Homo sapiens: one gene and its partner. The protein of the gene in region 1 purifies or fractionates together with the protein of each later gene. This does not show direct contact. Each region holds a gene or a part of one and is shown in the gene's direction. Other genes may lie near its edges.

Evidence for each region. Proteins that work in one complex are often made in the same cells at the same time.
Region 2: the proteins of PCDHGA5 (region 1) and ITGA7 purify together in Homo sapiens (affinity purification with mass spectrometry; 2 studies listed by BioGRID and IntAct, with this or other methods). This does not show direct contact.

What each region holds. Positions count from the first base shown.
Region 1 is NC_000005.10:141,507,162-141,510,318, forward strand, and holds part of PCDHGA5 (protocadherin gamma-A5 isoform 1 precursor), read left to right. Parts: intron 1-3,157. UniProt on the Homo sapiens protein: Potential calcium-dependent cell-adhesion protein. May be involved in the establishment and maintenance of specific neuronal connections in the brain.
Region 2 is NC_000012.12:55,687,487-55,690,904, reverse strand, and holds part of ITGA7 (integrin alpha-7 isoform 2 precursor), read left to right. Parts: intron 1-1,947; coding exon 1,948-2,061; intron 2,062-2,604; coding exon 2,605-2,703; intron 2,704-2,808; coding exon 2,809-2,934; intron 2,935-3,418. UniProt on the Homo sapiens protein: Integrin alpha-7/beta-1 is the primary laminin receptor on skeletal myoblasts and adult myofibers.

The sequences.
Region 1 (3,157 bases):
GGCTGTCCTCTTCCTCGAGCTCTGCTTTATTCTTCCAGATCAGGGTTGCCAGATAAAATACAGGATGCCCAGTTACAGTTGAATGTCAGATAAACAGCAAGTACTATTTCAGCATAAGTCAGTCTCAAATGTTGCATGAGACATAATGTACTAAAAAAAAAAATGCTCATTGTTTACCTGAAATTCAAATTTAACTGGGAGCCCTGTACTTTTATTTACTAAATCTGGCAACTCTACCCCAGATGTCTGTGAGGTTAAGTGGGGCCAGGCCTACAGCTGACGGAAGGACAGAGAGAGAGGTGGCAGGGACTGCTGGCCTCCTGAGGCAGAGCTGTCCCAGGTCTGGTGGGGCTATGATTCCAGAGAGGCCAGAGACTGAGTATGAAAGTGGCAGGCGGCTGGGTCTGAGGAGATGCCAAGTTGGCCTCTTGAGGGAAATAAACAGGTATATTTAGCTGTTGTGGCCTTGCGCCCTGAGGCCAGGAAGCAGCTTTTTAGCCTAAATCCAGATGTTAAAAACAGAAATGAAATCAGTATTTATGGCCCCAAACCCTCCAAGCAAGTCATGCAGCTCGTTCCCCTGTCAAGGCCTCCCACCTTTGGCCCACACAGGGCCTGACCCTCGTCTAAGCCTGCGCCCTGGGGAACGGACCCTGGGGGTGGAGGTGGTGGGTCAGGCCCTGCTCTCACTTTCACACCCGCTTCCTAGCCCTGAAACCAGAGAGGTTCCTGAAGTCCAGCCCAGCCAGGCCTGTGGGGCTGCTGAGAGGGGTTAAGTAAGAGGGAGAGTAAAAACCGACACTTGGGAGGAGGCTTTTAAAATAAACATCTGCGGGGAGGGATGCTCTCAAGGAGGCTGCGGTTTGCAGCTCAGCCAGCTGTGTTCCAGCTAATCAGCCTCCTTGGGCTACTCTGGAGTTGCTGCCTTGGCCCTGGGATGGGGTAGGTTAAGAGGACAGAGGGAGGTCAGGGAGCTGGGGGCTGAGTTTCCCTGAGTAGAGGCTGGCACAGGAGAGAAGGCATCACCCCCACCTCGTCCAGGCCAGAAGATGTCCAGCTTCTTGAGGCTCTCCTAAGTCTGCCTCTCCTGGGACCAAGAGAAAATCCCGGTCCTTGACCAAGGTGGGCCTTGGGGGGAGTGGGGTGTAGAGGGAGGGGCACTGGAGAACTGACTCTACAGAAAGTCAAAGCTGGCAATCCAACTTCTTCCCCTCAGATTTATAGATGGGAAAACAGGCTTGAGCCACGCAGAGACTTGACCAAGCTCACACAGTTCCTTAGTGGCAGAGCAGAGCAAATATTCTCTTTCTTTTACATTCTGGATTTCCATATCTTCTCTCCCTCCTGGTCCAGCCCAACCTCAGGGCACCCCCCACGAGGTGGGCGGGGGATGGCTTTGTCACTTGCACCCACTCGGGGTGCTACTCAGAGATCTTGGGTGCACATAGGACGTGGGTGGGCCGAGCTTCTAGCTACTCCGTCAGGCCCTTCCTGTCATTCTGTCTCTGCCTCCCTTCTCCCTGCTTCTCCGTGTTCCTCCTCATTCTTTTCTGTGTGCAGGGAGACTACACCCCCCACCCCGCTCTTTCTCTGGCGCCTCTGAGGTCCCCCCTCTAGCCCCTAAATCACTCTGGAATCCTGGCTCTTTGAAGCCAGATCTGGGCCCCCCTCCCCTACCCCTTCCATTCCCAGGCTGGGAAAGGCTGAAGAGGCTGACGGCTGGAGGGGAGGGGGCGGGGCGGTGGCGGATCTGGCTTCCTTTTGGAGTTAATTAGGGAAAACAGAGAAATGTCAGCGGAATGAAAGGGCTGGGGGTGGGGGCCAGCTGGGGTAGGAGAGGAGGAAGTGGGCAGCTGCTCCCTCCCACTCAACCCCTCTCCCCCGCCCCCAGAAAGCTCTCAGCTCCGGGGATTTGCGACATGAAATGGGGGCTGTAGAAACCTGAGCGCTGGTGCGTGAAGAGAAAAACCGAGGCGCATCCCGGCTCTCCCCTCCCGTGTGCCCTCCTCCTCTTATGCCGGCTTGAAAATATTTCCTGTCTCTCTATTTCTCAATCCCTGGTTGATGTCCCAGGATTACTCAGCCTCTCCGGCTTTAGTCACTCTCGCTACCCGCTCCCAGGGTCCAGGGTGGAGGCAGAGGGAGGCTGGGAGAGAAGCTCTACTGCCAGCTGGGCCTGGGCTGGCCTGGGCATCCCTGAGGTTTTAACTGTCTCCTAACCACAGAGGATCTCAGGGCCTCCAGCAGCGAGCCCCAATGAGTCAAACTCTTGTTTCCTCCTCTCCCACCCCCGACCCAGTCAGGGCAGGTGAGGGGTAGAGGTGATGGCATGCTGGATGTGACGGTGTTGATGATGTATTGCACAGGATGAAGCACCATCTCATTTAGTCCTCACAGCAGCCTTCACAGTGCGTACAAATCAGCTGGCAATTCCGAGAGGCTGCATTCTAAACAAGTTCCTGGGTGATGCTGAGCCAGGGCCAGAGTGTGGACTTCTCTGGGCCCCAGTTTCTTCTTCTGTACAGTGGGACGTTGGACTGGAGGTGCTGTCTGATGTCACCTAGCTGTGGCACTCTGAGCCTGTGCCTAAAGTGTCCCTGAGATGTCTAGTCCCCGAGATCATCATCTCCTCAGCTTCATAGAGCCGAGCTCTTCTCCATCTTCTCTCTACCTCCCATTCACTCAGAACAGGGATAAGGTCCAAGCTGCTGGTGGTGATGGTGACTGACTGTCCCTTCCAGCATGCGCTTAGGTACACTTGGGCCTGAATGCCCCTCTAACAAATGCTACCGGGTATGGCCTTGGTCCTTCTAACACTTGGTTCCCTCATCTGTAAAATGAGGGTCATACCACATAGCTGGCTGGGCTGTTATGTAGAGGTTAAAAGTGATTGTGCATGTGAAGCATCCAGCAGAGTGCCTGGCACACAGTAGGTGCTCAAATGCTGTTTTGAAATACAAAAATTAGCTGGGCTAGTGGTGTGCACCTGTAATCTCAGCTACTCAGGAGGTTGAGGCAGGAGAATCACTTGAGCCCAGGAGGCAGAGGTTGCAGTGAGCCGGGATCGCGCCACTGCACTCCAGGCTGGGCGACAGAGCAGGACTCCATCTTAAAAAAAAAAAAAAAAAAATGCTGTTTTGAAATGGAGGCTTGGAAG
Region 2 (3,418 bases), on another chromosome or scaffold:
CCTATGAGTGAGAATATGCGGTGTTTGGTTTTTTGTTCTTGTGATAGTTTAGTGAGAATGATTTCCAATTTCATCCATGTCCCTACAAAGGACATGAACTCATCATTTTTTATGGCTGCATAGTATTCCATGGTGTATATGTGCCACATTTTCTTAATCCAGTCTATCATTGTTGGACATTTGGGTTGGTTCCAAGTCTTTGCTATTGTGAATAGTGCCGCAATAAACATACGTGTGCATGTGTCTTTATAGCAGCATGATTTATAGTCCTTTGGGTATATACCCAGTAATGGGATGGCTGGGTCAAATGGTATTTCTAGTTCTAGATCCCTGAGGAATCGCCACACTGACTTCCACAAGGTTTGAACTAGTTTACAGTCCCACCAACAGTGTAAAAGTGTTCCTATTTCTCCACATCCTCTCCAGCACCTGTTGTTTCCTGACTTTTTAATGATTGCCATTCTAACTGGTGTGAGATGATATCTCATTGTGGTTTTGATTTGCATTTCTCTGATGGCCAGTGATGGTGAGCATTTTTTCATGTGTTTTTTGGCTGCATAAATGTCTTCTTTTGAGAAGTATCTGTTCATGTCCTTTGCCCACTTTTTGATGGGGTTGTTTGTTTTGTTCTTGTAAATTTGTTTGAGTTCATTGTAGATTCTGGATATTAGCCCTTTGTCAGATGAGTAGGTTGCGAAAATTTTCTCCCATTTTGTAGGTTGCCTGTTCACTCCGATGATAGTTTCTTTTGCTGTGCAGAAGCTCTTTAGTTTAATTAGATCCCATTTGTCAATTTTGGCTTTTGTTGCCATTGCTTTTGGTGTTTTAGACATGAAGTCCTTGCCCATGCCTATGTCCTGAATGGTAATTCCTAGGTTTTCTTCTAGGGTTTTTATGGTTTATGTCTAACATTTAAGTCTTTAATCTATCTTGAATTAATTTTTGTATAAGGTGTTAGGAAGGGATCCAGTTTCAGCTTTCTACATATGGCTAGCCAGTTTTCCCAGCACCATTTATTAAATAGGGAATCCTTTCCCCACTGGTTGTTTTTCTCAGGTTTGTCAAAGATCAGATAGTTGTAGATATGTGGCGTTATTTCTGAGGGCTCTGTTCTGTTCCATTGATCTATATCTCTGTTTTGGTACTAGTACTAAAGTAGATTCTTTTACTAAAAAGGCAGAAGGCCTTGCTTTTAGACAGCTTGGCTAAGGATTCTTGAATGGCTCAAAAGTGGCAAAATAAAAGATAACTCAAATAATTCAGACACTCTTAAAGCCATTCTTCTGTGTCTGGATCGTGGTGTGATGAATATAACATAACTTTCAGGCAAATGGGTCGTGAGGTGGTGATTGGGCCAAATGGATTTAGGTCAGTCCTGGAAAGAACAGAGCCTGAGTCCCCTGTCTACCCAGGAGCTCCTGAGGCTACCTCCTCCTCCTTCAGCGAGTTTGGGTTTAGGGCAGGGGTGTGGCTTTGCCGAATATGGACCTGAGTTCAAATATTTGCTCCACCACTCATTAGCTTTGCTAGTGCTGTGACCTGAGGCAGGTCGCTTGGCCTCCTTGGGCCTCCTCAGTTTCTTCCTTTGAAAAATGAGGATGATAATGTGCACCTTGTAGGACTATTGCGAAGCTTAAGTGAGATAAGTGCCTGACAAGTAGTAGGTGCTCAATAAATGGGACTGTCATTAGGTAACATAAGCATCACTTGGGGAAGCTACTCTGCCTGTGCTGTCAAGTAAGAGATTCCCTTCCATGCTGCCCCCTCCACGCATTTCAAAGCTGAATAGCTCAGATTTGGGGCAGGCAGCTATTTTGGATATAAGATTAGTTTGAGAAGACTTCCTGGAGGAGGGGAGTTTGAGGTCAAGTAAGGAAAATGGGAGAGATGGCAGTCTCAGCAGGGTTGAGCTGAGTGGCTTAGACCCCTGTCTGTCCTTATCCCTAGGACTGCGCCCGGGGCACGGCCAACTGTGTGGTGTTCAGCTGCCCACTCTACAGCTTTGACCGCGCGGCTGTGCTGCATGTCTGGGGCCGTCTCTGGAACAGCACCTTTCTGGAGGTGAGGATACCACTCGGCTCTAGTCTGTGTTTCTTCTTCCTCCAAAGCCCCTCCAGGACTCATTTCTCCTCCTCCTTCCTCACTGTCCAAATGCAGCATCCCCCCCCTTTTTTTTTTTTTTGAGACGGAGTCTTCCTTTGTCCCCCAGGCTGGAGTGCAGTGGTGCGATCTCAGCTCACTGCAACCTCTGCCTCCCAGGTTCAAGAGGTTCTCCTGCCTCAGCCTCCTGAGTAGCTGAGATTACAGGCACGTGCCACCACACCCGATATTTTTGTATTTTTCATAGAGACGGGGTTTTGCCATGTTGGCCAGGCTGATCTCAAACTCCTGACCTCAGGTGATCCACCCTCCTTGGCCTCCCAAAGTGCTGGGATTACAGGTGTGAGCCACTGTGCCCAGCCCAAACGCAGCATACTCTTAACCCAAACCAGGCAGAAACATCCTCTGTGTTGGGCACCATTACATTTATAATTTCAGGAGGTAAGGGGAAGGGAGGGAGACATGGGGCATTTAGGAGAAGGGTCTCCTTCCCTGTTCCCTTAGGAGTACTCAGCTGTGAAGTCCCTGGAAGTGATTGTCCGGGCCAACATCACAGTGAAGTCCTCCATAAAGAACTTGATGCTCCGAGATGCCTCCACAGTGGTGAGCTGCAGGGTTGGGGGATAGGTGGGGAGGACTCTCTTCTTTCCTGCTCCCTCCAGTTCTTGTTCCATTGACCTCTTGCTCCATTGACCCCTTGCTCCCCAGATCCCAGTGATGGTATACTTGGACCCCATGGCTGTGGTGGCAGAAGGAGTGCCCTGGTGGGTCATCCTCCTGGCTGTACTGGCTGGGCTGCTGGTGCTAGCACTGCTGGTGCTGCTCCTGTGGAAGGTGAGGCTTGGAGGTGGGGCTGATGGGGGTGGACTTCCTGGTTGGGTGAGCAGCATTTTGTATTGTGGTTCTGTCACCCACCCACACACTCATGTATTCAGCAAATCTGCACTGAACACTTGCCCTGCATGTCTCAGGAACTCTATTAGTCCCTGGATGTTTCAAAGATAAATCAGATGCAGGCTGGGTGCAGTGGCTCATGCCTGGAATCTCAGCACTTTGGGAGGCCTAGGCAGGTGGATCACTTGAGGTCAGGAGTTCGAGACCAGCCTGGACAACATGGTGAAACCCCATCTCTACTTAAAATACAAAATTAGCTGGGCGTGGTGGCACGCACCTGTAGATCCAGCTACTTGGGAGGCTGAGGCAGGAGAATCGATTGAACTCGAAAGGTGGGGTTGCAGTGAGCCGAGATGGCGCCATTGCACTCCAGCCTGGGTGACAGAGCGAGACTCCATCTCAAAAAAAAAAAAAAAAAAAAAAG